Linked DNA regions of Homo sapiens. The protein of the gene in region 1 interacts with the protein of each later gene in a pairwise test. Each region holds a gene or a part of one and is shown on either strand. Other genes may lie near its edges.

The links. The genes of interacting proteins can lie anywhere in the genome.
Region 2: the proteins of RDH13 (region 1) and PSKH1 interact in a two-hybrid assay, tested with the Homo sapiens proteins (one large-scale study listed by BioGRID and IntAct).
Region 3: the proteins of RDH13 (region 1) and CYP3A5 interact in a two-hybrid assay, tested with the Homo sapiens proteins (one large-scale study listed by BioGRID and IntAct).

Annotation. Positions count from the first base shown.
Region 1 is NC_000019.10:55,048,877-55,054,050, forward strand, and holds part of RDH13 (retinol dehydrogenase 13 isoform 1 precursor), read right to left. Parts: intron 1-5,174. UniProt on the Homo sapiens protein: Retinol dehydrogenase with a clear preference for NADP. Oxidizes all-trans-retinol, but seems to reduce all-trans-retinal with much higher efficiency. Has no activity toward steroids.
Region 2 is NC_000016.10:67,905,757-67,910,930, reverse strand, and holds part of PSKH1 (serine/threonine-protein kinase H1), read right to left. Parts: intron 2,252-5,174; 5' UTR 2,182-2,251; coding exon 1,225-2,181; intron 1-1,224. UniProt on the Homo sapiens protein: Serine/threonine protein kinase that may be involved in the regulation of pre-mRNA processing.
Region 3 is NC_000007.14:99,665,820-99,670,993, forward strand, and holds part of CYP3A5 (cytochrome P450 3A5), read right to left. Parts: exon of another isoform or gene 3,332-5,174; coding exon of another isoform or gene 3,276-3,331; exon of another isoform or gene 2,005-3,275; intron 1,247-2,004; coding exon 1,133-1,246; intron 871-1,132; coding exon 782-870; intron 1-781. UniProt on the Homo sapiens protein: A cytochrome P450 monooxygenase involved in the metabolism of steroid hormones and vitamins.

The DNA of each region.
Region 1 (5,174 bases):
ACAGGGTCTGTGCCGAAGTGGCCATGTCAGGATGCGGTCATTAGGGTGAGCCCTAATCCAATGACTGGTGTCCTTATAGGAAGGGAAAACAGAGACAGAGACACATGGGGAGAAGGCCATGTGTGGACAGAGGCAAAGACCGGAGAGGCACAGCTCCAAGGTGAGGGTGGGCCGCCCCCGCTGGAAGTGGAAGAGGCTGGGAGGATTATGGCCCGTCTCACAGGTCACAGCCACAGGGACACCGCGATTCAGACTGCCGGCTTCCGGAACCGTGAGGGAATGCACGTCTGAGGGTGTAAGCCACTGGGTTTGCAGTACATTGTTACAGCAGCTCCAGGACACTCACACGCCCTCCGCACCTCCATCTAAGCCTTGGGACTCCTTCCTGCCGGAGCCCCGAGGCCAAAAACGGGAGGTTACCGGTGGGAGCCCCGGCACCGCAGGCGTGGTTTCATTCCCAAACCTGCCACCTCACTCATACAAGCAACCAAAGGACACACAGATGGAGACTGCAGCCTCAGTTTCCTCAGCTGTAAAATGCGCTGAACCACAGGGCCTTCCTCCCTGTACCACTCAGCTCGGGTTCCGTAACAAAGTGCCACAGACAGGTGGTTTAAAACCTCACAGACCTGGCCGGGCACAGTGGCTCACGCCTGTAATCCCAGCACTTTGGGAGGCCGAGGTGGGCAGATCACCTGAGGTCAGGAGTTTGAGACCAGCCTGGCCAACATGGAGAAACCGCGTCTTTACTAAAAATACAAAATTAGCCAGGCGTGGTGGCATGCACCTGTAATCCCAGCTACTCAGGAGGCTGAGGCGGGAAAATCGCTTGAAACCAGGAGGCAGAGGGTGCAGTGAGCCGAGATCGCATCATTACACTCCATCCTGGGCAATAAAAGCAAAACTCCATCTCAAAAAAAAAAAAAAAAATCACAGTCCCAGAGGCTGGAAGTCCCAGATCAAGGTGTGGGCAGGGCTGGTTCCCTCTCAGGGCCCTCAGGGAGGATCCGCTCTGGTCTCTCTCCTTGGCTCACAGGTGACCATCTCCTCTCTCCCTCTTCCCTTCCTCTTCCCTTTGGAGCTGTCTCTTTTTTTTTTTTCATTTTTCCTTTTTTAATTTTAGATTTTTCAGACATGGTCTCACTATGTTGCCCAGGCTGGTCTCAAACTCTTGAACTCAAGCAATCCTCCTGCTTTGGCCTCCCAGAGTGCTGCAATTTCACTGCCCCCAGCCTATTTTTTTTTTTTTGGGGGGGGGAGATGGAGTTTCACTCTTGTCACCCAGGCTGGAGTGCAATGGTGCGATCTTGGCTCACTGCAACCTCTGCCTCCCAGGTTCAAACAATTCTCCTGCCTCAGCCTCCCAAGTAGCTGGACTACAGGCATCCACCACCACACCGGGTTAATTTTTTGTATCTTTAGTAGAGACGGGGCTTCACCATGTTGGCCAGGCTAGTCTCACACTCCTGACCTCGTGATCCACCTACCTCAGCCTCCCAAAGTGCTGGGACTGCAGGCGTGAGCCACCACACTCAGTCTACTTGGCCTATTTTTTATATTTCTTTGAGACAGGGTCTCCCTCTGACACCTGGGCTGGAGTACAGTGGCGCAATCACTGCTCACTGCAGCCTCAACCTCCCAGGCTCAAGCAGTCTTCTTGCTCAGCCTCCCAAGTAGCTGGGGCCACAGGCATGCGCCACCATGCCCAGCTAGCACGTCTGTTTCTGTGCGCAAATCTCCCCTTTTCATAAGGACACCAGTCACTGGATTAGGGCCCACCCTAATGACCTCATTTTCACTTCAGGACCTCTGTAAACACCCACCTCTAAATGAAGTCACATGCTGAGGGATGGGGGTTCAGGATCCCAACCTATCCTTGGGGGTGGAGGACACAATGGAATTCATAATGCTCCCGAAGTGGTTTTCGGCGGGGATCGTGAATTAGGTGTCCAGCGCGTAACACACAGACACCATCTGGTTCTCTGTGTGAGAAGGAGGGGGTTGCAGCACACCCGTCATGAATACCAGCTCTGGAGCAGGACAGACAGGTTCAAAGCCTGGCTCCACCCCGACCAGCTGCATGATCCTGGCCAAGTCACATCACTTCTCTGTGACTCAGTTTACTCCTTGTAAAAAAAAAAAAAAAAAAAGGATAATAACATCACCTGCCTGGTACAACTGTATACTTACTCATTCAGTAAGTATTTTCTAAGCACCTATTACTGGGCACTGGAAATACAGGGTGGACAGCACAGCCGAGGCCCCGTCCGTGTGGACCGGACATTCCAGTGCAGCTGAGAGCCACTTCCACTCGTGAGAGAATCTACCCGTGACAGAGCTGCGTGGAAGCTGACAGGAGGCCCCTCTCAGGAGGTGACGCAGAAACTGGGACCGGGAAAATGAGGCAGGGCCCACGTGCGGAGACCCAGGGAAGGGGGATGCAGGCAGCAGGCGCAGCACGGGTAAGGCCCAAAGGCGGGACAGGGAGACTCCACTCACAGCTGGGCGCCCAGGAGTGCCGCCAGCTTCTGGTGTTTTGTTTTGGTTTTTTTTCTTTTTTTTTTTGAGATGAAGTCTCACTCTGCCACCCAGGCTGGAGTGCAGTGGTGTGATCTTGGCCCATGGCCCACTGCAACCTCTACCGCCTGGGTTCAGGCGATTCTGCTGCCTCAGCCTCCCGAGTACTGGGATTACAGGTGCCCGCCACCGCACCCTGCTAATTTTTGCATTTTTAGTAGAGACGGGGTTTCACCATCTTGGTCAGGCTGGTCTTGAATTCTTCACCTCGTGATCCACCCGCCTCTGCCTCCCAAAGTGCAGGGATTACAGGTGTGAGCCACCGCGCCCAGCCTGTTTTTTTTTTTTTCTTTTTATGAGAGGGAAGCTCACTCAGTGGCCCAGGCTGGAGTGCAGTGGCGCGATCTCAGCTCACAGCAACCTCCGCCGCCAGGGCTCAAACGATCCTCCCACCTCAGCCTTCCACATAGCTGAACCACAGGCGCCCGACACCACAAGCAGCTACTTTTAAAATTTTTTGTAGAAATGGGGTTTGGCTATGTTGCTTAGGCTGGTCTCGAATTTCTGAGCTTAGGCAATTCGCCCACCTCGGCCTCCCAAAGTGCTGGGATTGCAGGCGTGGGCCACAGTGCCTGGCCTGTTGTTTTGTTTATCTGGGAACTGCCTCAACTTTTTTTTTTTTTTTTTTTTTTTGGACACAGGGTCTCACCCCGAGTGCAGTGGTACAATCAAAGCTCACTGCAGGCCGGGCGTGGTGGCTCACATCTGTAATCCCAGCACTTTGGGAGGCCGAGGCGGGCAGATCACCTGAGGTCAACCAGCCTGACCAACATGGTGAAACCCTGTCTCTACCTAAAACAAAAAAGTAGCCGGGCATGGTGGCAGGTGCCTGTAATCCCAGCTACTCAGGAGGCTGAGGCAGGAGAATTATTTGAAACCAGGAGATGGAGGTTGCAGCCTGACCAACAGGAAGAAACCCCGTCTCTACTAAAAATACAAAATTAGCCGGGCGTGGTGGCGCATGCCTGTAATCCCAGCTACTCGGGAGGCTGAGGCAGGAGAATCACTTGAACCCAGGAGGTGGAGGATGCCGTGAGCCAAGATCCCGTCATTGCACCAGCCTGGGCAACAAGAGCAAAACTCCGTCTTAAAAAAAAAAAAAAAAAATCCCTCACTGCAGCCTCAACCTCCCAGGCTCAAGCAATCCTCCCACCTCCACCTCCCAAGTAGTTGGGACTACAAGTGCACACCATCACGCCTGCCTCATTGTTTTTTATTTTTTTTTTGAGATGGAGTCTCACTCTGTCACCCAGGCTGGAGTGCAGTGGCGCCATCTCGGCTCACTGCAAGCTCCACCTCCCGGGTTCACGCCATTCTCCTGCCTCAGCCTCCCAAGTAGCTGGGTTACAGGTGCCCGCCACCACGCCCGGCTAATTTTTTTGTGTTTCTTAGTAGACACGGGGTTTCACCGTGTTGGCCAGGATGGTCTCGATCTCCTGACCTTGTGATCCGCCCGCCTCAGCCTCCCAAAGTGCTGGGATTACAGGCGTGAGCCTGCACGCCTGCCTGATTGTTTTGTATTTTTTGTAGAGATGAGGTCTTGCTATGTTGCCCAGGCTGATCTCAAACTCCCTGATAAACAAGGCTGTGGGTACCTGCTTCCTGGGGCTCTTTGCTTTGTGTTCTTTCTAGTCGGGAGCTGGGAAGAGCCACAGCTTCCAGCTTTGTCAGAGTGTCATCTCACAAACTGATCTTCCCAAAACTTCTGTCTCCCAAAGTGCCGGGATGACAGGCGTGAACCGCTGCACCTGGCCTGCCCCAGTGTGGTAGAATACACACCACATAAAATGGACGATCTTCACTATTTTTAAATCCACTGCTGTCTTTATTCCTGGCTGTTGATCTTAGGAAAACACCAAGAAGCTGGTACTTGATTTGCTAAAAAAGTCACAGACACAGCTTTACTTAATCCTCTAGAGAGGCTGGGCGTGGTGGCTCATGCCTGTAATCCCAGCACTTTGGGAGGCCGAGGTGGCTGGATCATGAGGTCAGGAGATCGAGACCATCCTGGCTAACACGGTGAAACCCCGTCTCTAGTAAAAAATATAAAAAATTAGCCGGGCGTGGTGGCAGGCGCCTGTAGTCCCCCGCCACTCGGGAGGCTGAGGCAGGAGAATGGCATGAACCCGGGAGGCGGAGCTTGGAGTGAGCCGAGATGTGCCACTGTCCTCCAGCCTGGGCGACAAAGCAAGATACCGTCTCAGAAAAAAAAAAAAACCCCTCTAGAGAATCCCAGAAAATAGAAGGAATTATTCCATTTCCCGGAAGAGGAACGTGTGGCTAAGAGAGGAGGCATCACCTGCCCAGGTGTGTCCAGCCGGGGTCCTCACTGTCTCAGGGACCTCAGTGCTCCGGACACCTGTGTCCACAAGCCAGAGACAGGATCAGAGGCGCCCTGGGTGGGATTGCCTGGGACAGTGTGCATGAAGGTGACAGTGCTGTACCTGGTACACAGCAGGTGCTTAATAAATGTTCATCCACCTCTGAGACTCTGAGGCATTGCCCTCTCACTGTTCTTTGTGATCTCACCGTAGTGCCTCTCACCTACCCGACAACAGTGCCGGCTCTTTCTTGATCCCCAAGGGCACAGCAGGGGC
Region 2 (5,174 bases), on another chromosome or scaffold:
TGGATCCAAAGACACAAACTGACAGCCTGGCGGTTGAATGTGACCTGCAGGTTAGTGTTTGCTGGCGCACAAGAAGCTGCTTAAATATGTGAATCAGAATATTCTAACATTTTAAGATTAGATTTTCTGGCCAGGTGCAGTGGCTCACGCCTGTAATCCCAGCACTTTGGGAGGCCAAGGCCGGCGGATGACCTGAGGTCTGGAGTTCGAGACCAGGCTGGCCAACGTCGCGAAACCTCATCTCTACTAAAAATACAAAAATTAGCTGGGGGAGGTGATGCGGGCCTGTAATCCCAGGTCTGTAATCCCAGCCACTTGGGAGGCTGAGGCAGGAGAATCACTTGGACCCATGAGGTGGAGACTGCAATGAGCCAAGATTGTGCCACTGAACTCCAGCCTGGGCAACAGAGCAAGACTCCATCTCAAAAAATAAAAGATCAGATTTTCTGGTTTCTCTTCTAAAAAAAAATCAGATCTGGACACACGAGGTCCTCATTGTGTGGTGAAACTGGACAGTGATGAGAAGCTGCTCTCTGAGATGGGCATGTTCAGTCTAGCTTGGCTGGGGCCCCACAGAGCAGATGCTGGGAAGGCCCTGCCCACATCCTCTCAGCCCACCCCCTGAGCTCATCTGCAGCTGTGGCACACTGCTTGGTGCCTGGCAACAGCTTCCCACCGCCAGTGCCTGCATCTCTCTGCTTCTCTGCCTGAAGACTTTCTCTAGCACTAGTTGGTATCAGGACAGCCCAGAAGCACCAGAGATTTAGTGTCCTCAAAGAAATTCTCAACCCATGAAGTACAGGAGTCAGTGGATTAAAAAAAAAACAAAACAAAAAGAAACTCACGTTCCTGCTCTTTGGTGGTACAACTATGAGGCACATTCCACATGGTTATTACCAAGGTTCCCAGTGGCCCACAGTGGCAGTCCATTTCTCAATATACTCTACTGACTTTCTCCCTTCCTGCCTCACTTTTCCCACTCCTTCACTTTTAGTTACTCAAATCACATCCCAAATAAACTATCTGCTCCCAAGTCCTTGTCTCAGGGCTCACCTTGAGGGAACCCAAACTACATTCTGATAGTCTCACTTTGTCCCTTTTATATGACCTGCCTGGCCCTCACGAGCATGGCCCTGAGGACATACCTCTGACTGAGAGCTGCAGGATATACCTGCCCCCGCAGGTGCCTCCCCAACATCCAGGACAGGGGCAGGACAGACTCACCTCCCCAGAGTAACTGTACTTGCCCCTGAGGATCTGCCGGTACAGCCGGGTACGGTTGTCATCCTCAAACGGCATGGTGCCACTGAGTAGGATGTAGGCAATGACGCCCAGCGCCCACATGTCCACTGAGTTGGTGTATGGCTTGCGGACCAGGACTTCTGGGGCAATGTACTCAGGCGTGCCACAGGTGGTCTTCATCAAGCAGTCATCACCCTTCTTGCGAGCACTGGCCAGGCCGAAGTCGGTGATGATGATCTTGGAGTCAGTGCCCGGATGGTAGTAGAGCAGATTCTCAGGTTTGAGGTCTCGGTGTGTGATGCCCAGTGCATGCAGATACCGGACGCCATCCAGCACCATCTGCAGCACCCGCGTGGCGTCACGCTCGGTGAAGGAGCCCTTGGCAATGATGCGGTCAAAGAGCTCTCCACCAGTGGCCAGCTCCATCACCATGTACACCCGCTCCTGTGTCTCGAACACCTCCACCAGCTGGATGATGTTGGCATGACGCACCCGACGCAGCACACGCAGCTCCGACTCACACACCTCCCGCCCCTCCCGGTACTTGGTCTCAATCATCTTGATGGCATACGGCTGCCGGGTTGCCCGGTGCTCTACACGTACCACTCGGCTGAAGCTGCCTCGGCCAATTAGGGCCTTGATGTCATACTTAGCTGTAACACGTGGGTCAAACTTGGCCCTGTACTTAGCTACCCTGGCCCTGCGTGGTGGTTCTGAGGGAGGCTCCGTGTGGCCAGCAGTCGGGGGACCGGGGCAGGGGTGTGCATACTGACTTGCTGCTGGGAACCCGGCTTTGACAGGGCCAACACTGTCCACCTCTGTGATGAAGTGCTTGTACACGTCACTCTTAGTGCCACTGAAGGGCTCCACCTTCTTGACCAGATCCAGCTGGACATCCTTGGGTGGCTCGGGAAGGACCTTGCTTGTCCCACAGCCCATCACGGACACGAGGGCATCCTCTCCAGCGAGGCTGGCAGGACCTGCTCTGAAGGCAGTGCCCCGTCTACACCTACACACAAAGAGAGAACAAGTCAGCACAGCCAGGCCAACTCTAAGGAAATCAGCCATCCTCCTCAGCCCTCCCTCTCCAGAAACTCAGTCTCATTAAAACCAAACTCCTGGCCAGGCGTGATGGCTCACACCTGTAATCCCAACACCTTGGGAAGCTGAGGCAGGTGGATTACCTGAGGTCAGGAGTTCAAGACCAGCTGGCCAACATGGTGAAAACCCATCTCTACTAAAAATACAAAAATTAGCCAGGCGTGGTGGCACACATCTGTAATCCCACCTACTCGGGAGGCTGAGGCACAAGAATCGATTGAACCCAGGAGGCGGAGGCTGCAGTGAGCTGAGATTGCACCACTGCACTCCAGCCTGGGTGACAGAGTAAGACTCTGTCTCAAACAAACAAACAAAAAACTGAAGTCCTGGCTCTCATTTATTTCCCTGGTCGGGAGTATGGCTTTGCTGTTCAAGAGCCCAGACTCAACACAGGGTCTAGCTGAAAAGATGGCCCGAGCTTCACGGCTTTGACTCATCTCCCTGGGCCTCAGTCTCATGCTGCTCTTCAACCCTGAGAGGGGGCAGGAACACGCATAGCCTCAGCTGTCAGGGCGCCCACCCTCCTCACTCCTCTGCCTGGGCCCCTTATCCTAGCCGAAGGCCCATGTTTCTAAAATGTTAAAATCATTCCTCTTATTACTCTTGACTCATCTTTTCTGAAATGGGGGTGTGAAGTGTTGGAGGCCTGCTCTCTAACACCATCACCCACCAGGGCTCAGAAAGCTGCTTCTCCAAGGCCTCCTTCATGCATATCTTTCCCAGCCCTTTAGGCTTCCTACAGGGGTTGGTCCCTCTGTAACAAGCAACAAACCACTTCCCTGGGGCTCTCCCTCATTCTCCTGGAAGGCTTCCACTCCTTTGCTAATGCACTGTCCCCACCCTGGCAGTTTAACTCCCTATTCCAGGGTCTCTCACTTCCCCAGCACACTACATGGATGGCTGAAATCCCACACAAGGCCCAGAGCTGCTGGAATCAACCCCAGTGAACTTGGGACCACAAGCCTCAGCACACTGCCACCAAGTGACTGCAAAACTCGCCTGGTCTTCATTCAAGAGTCAGAGGCGGGGCCGGGCACAGTGGCTCATGCCTGTAATCCCATCACTTTGGAAGGCCGAGGCGGGCAGATCACCTGAGGTCAGGAGTTTGAGATCAGCCTGGCCAATATGGTGAAACCCCATTTCTACTACAAGTACAAAAATTAGCTGGGTGTGGTGGTGGGCGCCTGTAATCCCAGCCACTTGGGGGGCTGAGGCAGAAGAATTGCTTGAACCCGGGAGGCAGAGGTTGCTGTGAGCTGACACTGCGCCACCCCACTCCAGCCTGGACAAAAGAGTGAGACTCCATGTCAAAAAAAAAAAGAGTTGGCCAGGCGCGGTGGCTCAGGTCTGTAACCTCAGCACTTTGGGAGACCGAGGCGGGCGGATCACAAGGTCAGGAGATCGAGACTATCCTGGCTAACACAGTGAAACCCCATCTCTACTAAAAATACAAAAAATTAGCCGGGCGTGGTGGCAGGCGCCTGTAGTCCCAGCTACTCGGGAGGCTGAGGCAGGAGAATGGCGTGAACCCGGGAGGCGGAGCTTGCAGTGAGCCGAGATCCTGCCACTGCACTCCAGCCTGGGCAACAGAGTGAGACTCCGTCTCAAAAAAAAAAAAGAGTCAGAGGGGCTTGAGCTCAGAGAGGACACTGGCAGTTTCACCCAGATTTAACTCAGGATGAAGATCAGGGTATCTTGCTTCCTTATGATGGGGATCCAGGGTCCCTTCCAGTTTGATTCCCAGACAGAGATGTTCCAACCATGAACTAAATACCCTGGGGCTGGTGGGGCCCTGGACAAGGTGCAGTGCTGAAGTTACTGCTTCCAGAGGTCACCACCTTTCTAATGAGAGGGCTCTTCTCTATGTCTGAGGACCCCAAGGGTTGAAGAGAGATAAGGATTTCCTATTAATTATGACACACAGGCTGGGCCCGGTAGCTCACACCTGTAATCCCAGCACTTTGGGAGGCCGAGGTGGGCGGATCACTTGAGGTCAGGAGTTCAAGACCAGTCTGGCCAACATGGTGAAACTCCATCTCTACTAAAAATACAAAAACATTAGCCGGGCATGGTGATGCACACCTGTAACCCCAGCTACTTGGGAGGCTGAGGCAGAAGAGTCACTTGAACCTGGTGGAGGTTGCAGTGAGCCAAGATTGTGCCACTGCACTCCAGCCTGGGCAACAGAGATCTGTCTTAAAAGAAAAAAAAAAAAAGGCTGGGCGCGGAGGCTCACGCCTGTAATCCTAGCACTTTGGGAGGCCAAGGCGGGTGGATCACCAGAGGTCGGGAGTTCGAGACCAGCCAGGCCAACATGGTGAAACCCTGTCTCTACTAAAAATACAAAATTAGCCGGGCTTGGTGGCACATGCCTGTAATCCCAGCTACTTGGGAGGCTGAGGCAGAAGAATTGTTTGAACCCGGGAGGCGGAGGTTAGAGTAGCCGAGATCGCGTGATTGCACTCCAGCCTGGGCAACAAGAGTGAAACTCTGTCTCAAAAAGAAAAAAAAAAATTATGACAAATAGAACTGGAAGAGAAATGAACAATTCAGATAAAACATTTATTATTAAATATCTAGTAGATACCAGGGGCACAGGAATAAATAAAACATGGTCCAAGGTAGGTTATATTTTAACACACACACACACAAACAAGTAGAACATGGTCAATAAACTCACAATCTAAATAAAGAGAAAAGCATAAAAACAAATAATTTTGTTTTTCTTTTTTTGAGATGGAGTCTCCTTCACCCAGGCTGGAGTGCACTGGCACGACCTCAGCTAACTGCAGCCTCTGCCTCCCGGGTTCAAGCGATTCTCATGCCTCAGC
Region 3 (5,174 bases), on another chromosome or scaffold:
CCTGCTAATGCTCTGGAAAACCCCACTATCCCCAGCTCCTCTGACCTGAAGTTGCGCTGAGAGCAGAGTCATTTTTGTAAGATGTGACAATCAAGAATGTTCTGGTTAAAAAAAATAGATCTCTCCAACATTGATTTGGAGAACCCAAAACTGAGTGACCACATGTCCCAAGTCTGAACAGGACAGGCTCAGATTACACCTGTCGTTCCTGCATAATTGAAGCACATACCATTGTAGACAGCAAATAATAGGCTTGCTCTACACATAGCATTTCTAGCACCCTTTCTTTTTTGAGATTGGAGGAAAAGGAAGTAGTGGGAAGGTTTAATAGTTCATAGTTTGCTGATATTCTCAGAAAAACCATGAAGGGATTGAAATTGTTCCAAGTTCCCCATTGTAACTTTCCCATCTTACCCAATGCAAGGCAACAAGTACCAAATGCTTGCTTACCCACAGTTCCATATCCACTACACTCAAAACTTTGATACAATCATGTTTTTTTAATTTCTAAAGTATGTATTTAATCTCCCAGAATATTTATGGTGACAAGTTAACAGATAAGTAAATCCTGGCTCCTGTGCACAGGAGAGAAGGCCCTTTTCCCTTGCTGACTTGCCGCCTCATGGGAGCCACTCCCTCTTAGGTGGCTCTTTGGAGTTGCAGCGCTGCCCTGCTTTTGTCTGGTCACTGGAGTAACCCAACAGTGCGACTGTCGACTCCATGGCAGGCAGCTGGAAGGGCTCATGACAGCTCAGAACCCCATGGCTGTGCTCCTACTTACTCTTTCAAGGTGACAGGCTTGCCTTTCTCTGCTTCCCGCCTCAAGTTTCTCACCAATACATCTCCATACTGGGCAATGATGGGGAACATCTAAGCACAAAACAGATCAGTACCTGTAGTTAAATGTGCAGACTCAAGTCCCAGAAGGATATGGCTTTCTCCAGCATGGAGCAGTAAGTGACATTTTGTAATGAATTTTGTGATGTCTTTTCTGTACATAAAGATAAAAGACCATTTTTAGGAAGCTCGAACTCAGTGGACTACCCCTTGGAAACGGACTGTGATCTTACTTTCTACCTGTCCCCAGATTCATTCTTTACATTTCTAATTAAGACTCATCTTATTTTCATACCTCCTTGAGTTTTCCGCTGGTGAAGGTTGGAGACAGCAATGACCGTATTCTCTTCCATTCTTCATCCTCAGCTAAAGAGATGGCACTTTTCATAAATCCCACTGGGCCTAAAGACTAGAGTTCAACAGAAACATTTTTTCTCACATTAGTTGTGGTGATCTTCATGGTTGCACAAAATATATTGAAGAGGCATCCTTATTTAACAAATATTTATTGACTGTATATGATATTATGGCAAGCCATATTCAAGATGCTCAATGGAGATCCTAGATGCCTAGCCTCTTCTGAGTGTATGTGGGGCGGGGGTGGGAGTGGGGAGACCCAGCCATCTGGTGTGGTCTCCTGCCTCTATATCTCAGTCTCCTTTTAATTGCAAATGCTCCACGTGGTAGGGAACTGTTCTTCCAGTGGAATAGACAGGAACAAGACCTAGCCCTTCCCCAGGAGTGTGCAGAGTAGAAAAGGATTGGTGACAGATGGGCAGACTGTATGTTGCCTCAGACCAGCTCTGTCTTTAATACACCTACAGCATGGGCAACTTGAAAAAGGGATGCCATGATGTGGTGATTTTTTTTTGAAAAGTAGGTAATACTTAAAGACTAGAAACCTGTTTTGAAGGAATAATGCAATTTCCTTGAAAATTCTTTTCTCTTAATTTTTTATTCCATAAATAGAAGGAAAAAGAAAGGGATAATTACTTTTCCCAACTTGGGGCTGGACTATCAAGCCAGCATGCTTGGAACTTTCTCTTATCTTCCACAACTATGTTTTGTTTTAAAATGTGTACTTCCAGCTGTCATGATAAAATCTCAATAAACTAGGAAGAGAGAGACAGTTCCTTCATTTGATAAAGACAATCTGTAAAAAAATCATTCAGTTAAATCACATTTAATGATGAAGGACTGAATGGTTTTTCCAAGATCAAGAAGAACTAAAAAATGCCCACTCTCAACATTCTTACTAAAGAGCATACCTGATGTCTTAATACACTAGACAAGAAAAAGAAATAAAAGGCATACAGATTGGAAAGGAAATAATAGAATTGTCTCTATTTTCAGGTGACATAATTGTCAATGTATAAAATGTCAAGGAATATACAAAAAAATTTCTAGAACGAATAGGTAAGTTCTGCAAGGCTATAGGATACAAGATCAACAAACAAAATTATTCACATTTCTATGTAACAATAATCAATATCTGAAAATACAAGAAAAACAGTATCATTTACAGTTACTCCAACAAAAATGAAATATTTCTGGTGTAAATCTAACAAAAGATGTACAGGACCTCTATGCTGAAAACTATAAAATGTTGAGGAAAGTAATAAAAGCTAAAGAAATGGAGAGGCATACTATATTCACGGGATGAAAGGCTGAACATAGTAAAGATATAGATTATACCCAAATTGTTCTATTGGTTTAATTCAAGCTTGTCCAACTTGTGGCCTGCAGGCCTCATGCAGTCCAGGATGGCTTTGAATGTATCCCAATACAAATGTGGAAACTTTCTTAAAACATTTTGAGTTTTTTTGCAATTTTTTTTGTAATTTTGTAATTTGACTATGTGATTCTCAAGTGTGAACTTCGTAGACAACAATGGAATGGAAAGGGGTAATCAGAGTATGTCACATCCACAAATAATGGACTAGTATCCATAATTTGCATTATAATTGCAAACAGTTCAGCAAGAAGAAATTAAAAGCCATTAAAATTAACTAACAAAGAGCGAGAGGACGCTATTGCAGTGCCACGTGAAGTGAATTGTGACAAAGAATTCAAGTGTGTATTCTGGACAAGGCAGAGCGCTGCTGTACACCAGACACTGTCGCCATTTGTACGCATGTGTGGCTTCAGTTTTATGGTGGTGTGCGACTTCCAGTGTGTTATCTTCTAATCACGGACAGTTGAATTGACACTGTCAGGTATTAGGTGTGTTTGTGGCAATTTGGCAAGTAAAACCCAGCAATTATCAATAATATTTCAACCTACCTTTGTAGATGATAGGTGTTTAATATTATTTAGAAGACATGTAAGTATTCTTATTTGATTATTAAACCTTGCTTTCTGTTCTATTTTCCTATCTGTTAATTTCCATAATAAAAGTAAATATAGTTGCTTATCTATTATAATGCTTTTAATTCCAGAATGGCTTCCACAATGTCTTAAAAAGAAAACCCTAAAAAACAAAAATTATGGATGAAGGAAGATTGTTCAATGAAAAGTGGACAAATGACTTTTTCTTGTTGAGGCAAATAGCGAAGCACTCTGCTTAATTTCCACGGAATTTGTGCCAGTTTTCAAAGACTACAATTTGAAGAGGCATTATATGCAAAAACGTGCTGACAAATTTGGTGTGTATGTGTTGTAAGGACAAAATAGCAGAACTGAAAAAAAGTCTGTCTTTTCAACAAAAAAGATTTTTTAAAAAGTTACAACTCGGACTCAATCGTAAGGTAAAACCTAGTTATGTGGTAGCAAATTTAATAGCAAAAAAATCAAAACCATTTACTGATGGTGAGTTTATTAAGCAATGTCTGGAAGATGTGGTAGATATTATTTGCCTTGAGAAACTGATATTTCTAAAATCAGTTTGTCTCACCAGACTATAGCCAGGAGAATTGGAGAAATTGGGAAATCTATTGAAAGACGTTTGGAGAGTAAAACTGCTAATTTAAAATTTTATGCTTTGGTGATGGATGAAGGCACTGACACTACAGATACGGCACAACTTGCTATTTTTATTAGAGGTATTGATGATGAATATAATGTCACTGAAGAAATCGAAATGTCACCATGCTATTAAAAGACACAACTAAATCAAGAGATTTATATGAAGCAGTGAAAAATATGTTAAAGCAATTTTCTTTGTCCTTTGTAAACATATGTGATATAGCTACAGATGCTGCCCTGGCGATGGTAGGTAAAAGAGAGGGACTTGTACAATTAATAGATGATGCAGTTGCCACACAAAACTCACATTTGATGAAGTATTATTGCATAATACATCAAGAAAATCCATGTGCACAAGCTTTAAAAGTAGATAACGTCATGCAAATTGTCATCAAGGCTGTAAATTTCACAAGGGCCCAGGAATTGAATCATCGCTAGTTTCAGGAATTCCTTAAAAGTATGGATGCTGACTCTAGCAAGTCATTCACTTTTTAGAAGTAAGATGGTTAAGTCAAGGCAAAATGTAAAGATTTTATGCTTTGTGATGTGAAATCAAGCTGTTTATGGTATCAAACAAAATTGGTGCCAGAACTTGACAATGAAAACTGGCTTACAGATTTAGCATTTTTAGTGGGTTTGACGGCCCATTTAAGTGAGTTAAACCTGTGTCTTCAAGTTGAAAACCAACTTAACAATACAATGTTTCAAACCATAACAGCATTCCATATGAAACTGAAATTATGGCAAGCTCAAATTAAGGCAAACAATTTTATGCATTTCGACATGTTGGCTAAACATGGTCCTGTGAACAGCCAAAAATACGCAGCCTTGCTTTTCAATTTGATACAGGAATTTGAAAACAGGTATTTCAAGATTTCTGAAAAAATCATCAATATTTTGGTATATTTGCAACTCCATTTTCAGTCGACATATATATGTTACCTGGCAATTTTGAAATGGAATGCCTAGAGCTGCAATCTGATGTTCAACTTATAGAAAAATTTGATTTTGCCTCTTTACTGGACTTTTGTAAGACCTGTCTTCCCAATGACAAATATCCCTTGCTTCACAATCACACCTTGTTCATGTCATTGCTTTTTGGCAGCACTTACATTTGTGAGCTACTATTTTCAAGGATGAAGAACACGAAGAGTAAAATTAGAACCAAAATATCTGATGAGCACCTTGAGAACTCACTGAGAATTGCAACTACTTCCATCAAGCCAGATACTGATGGATTAGTTTCTCAAAAACAATGTCAAGTACCCCACTAGTTTTATGTTGTTCTCTTTTCTTTTATAATAAAAAATATCAAAAAAGTAGTGAAGTTTAGCTAGATATGTACATTTTCTGTATCAGTGATTGCAAACTTG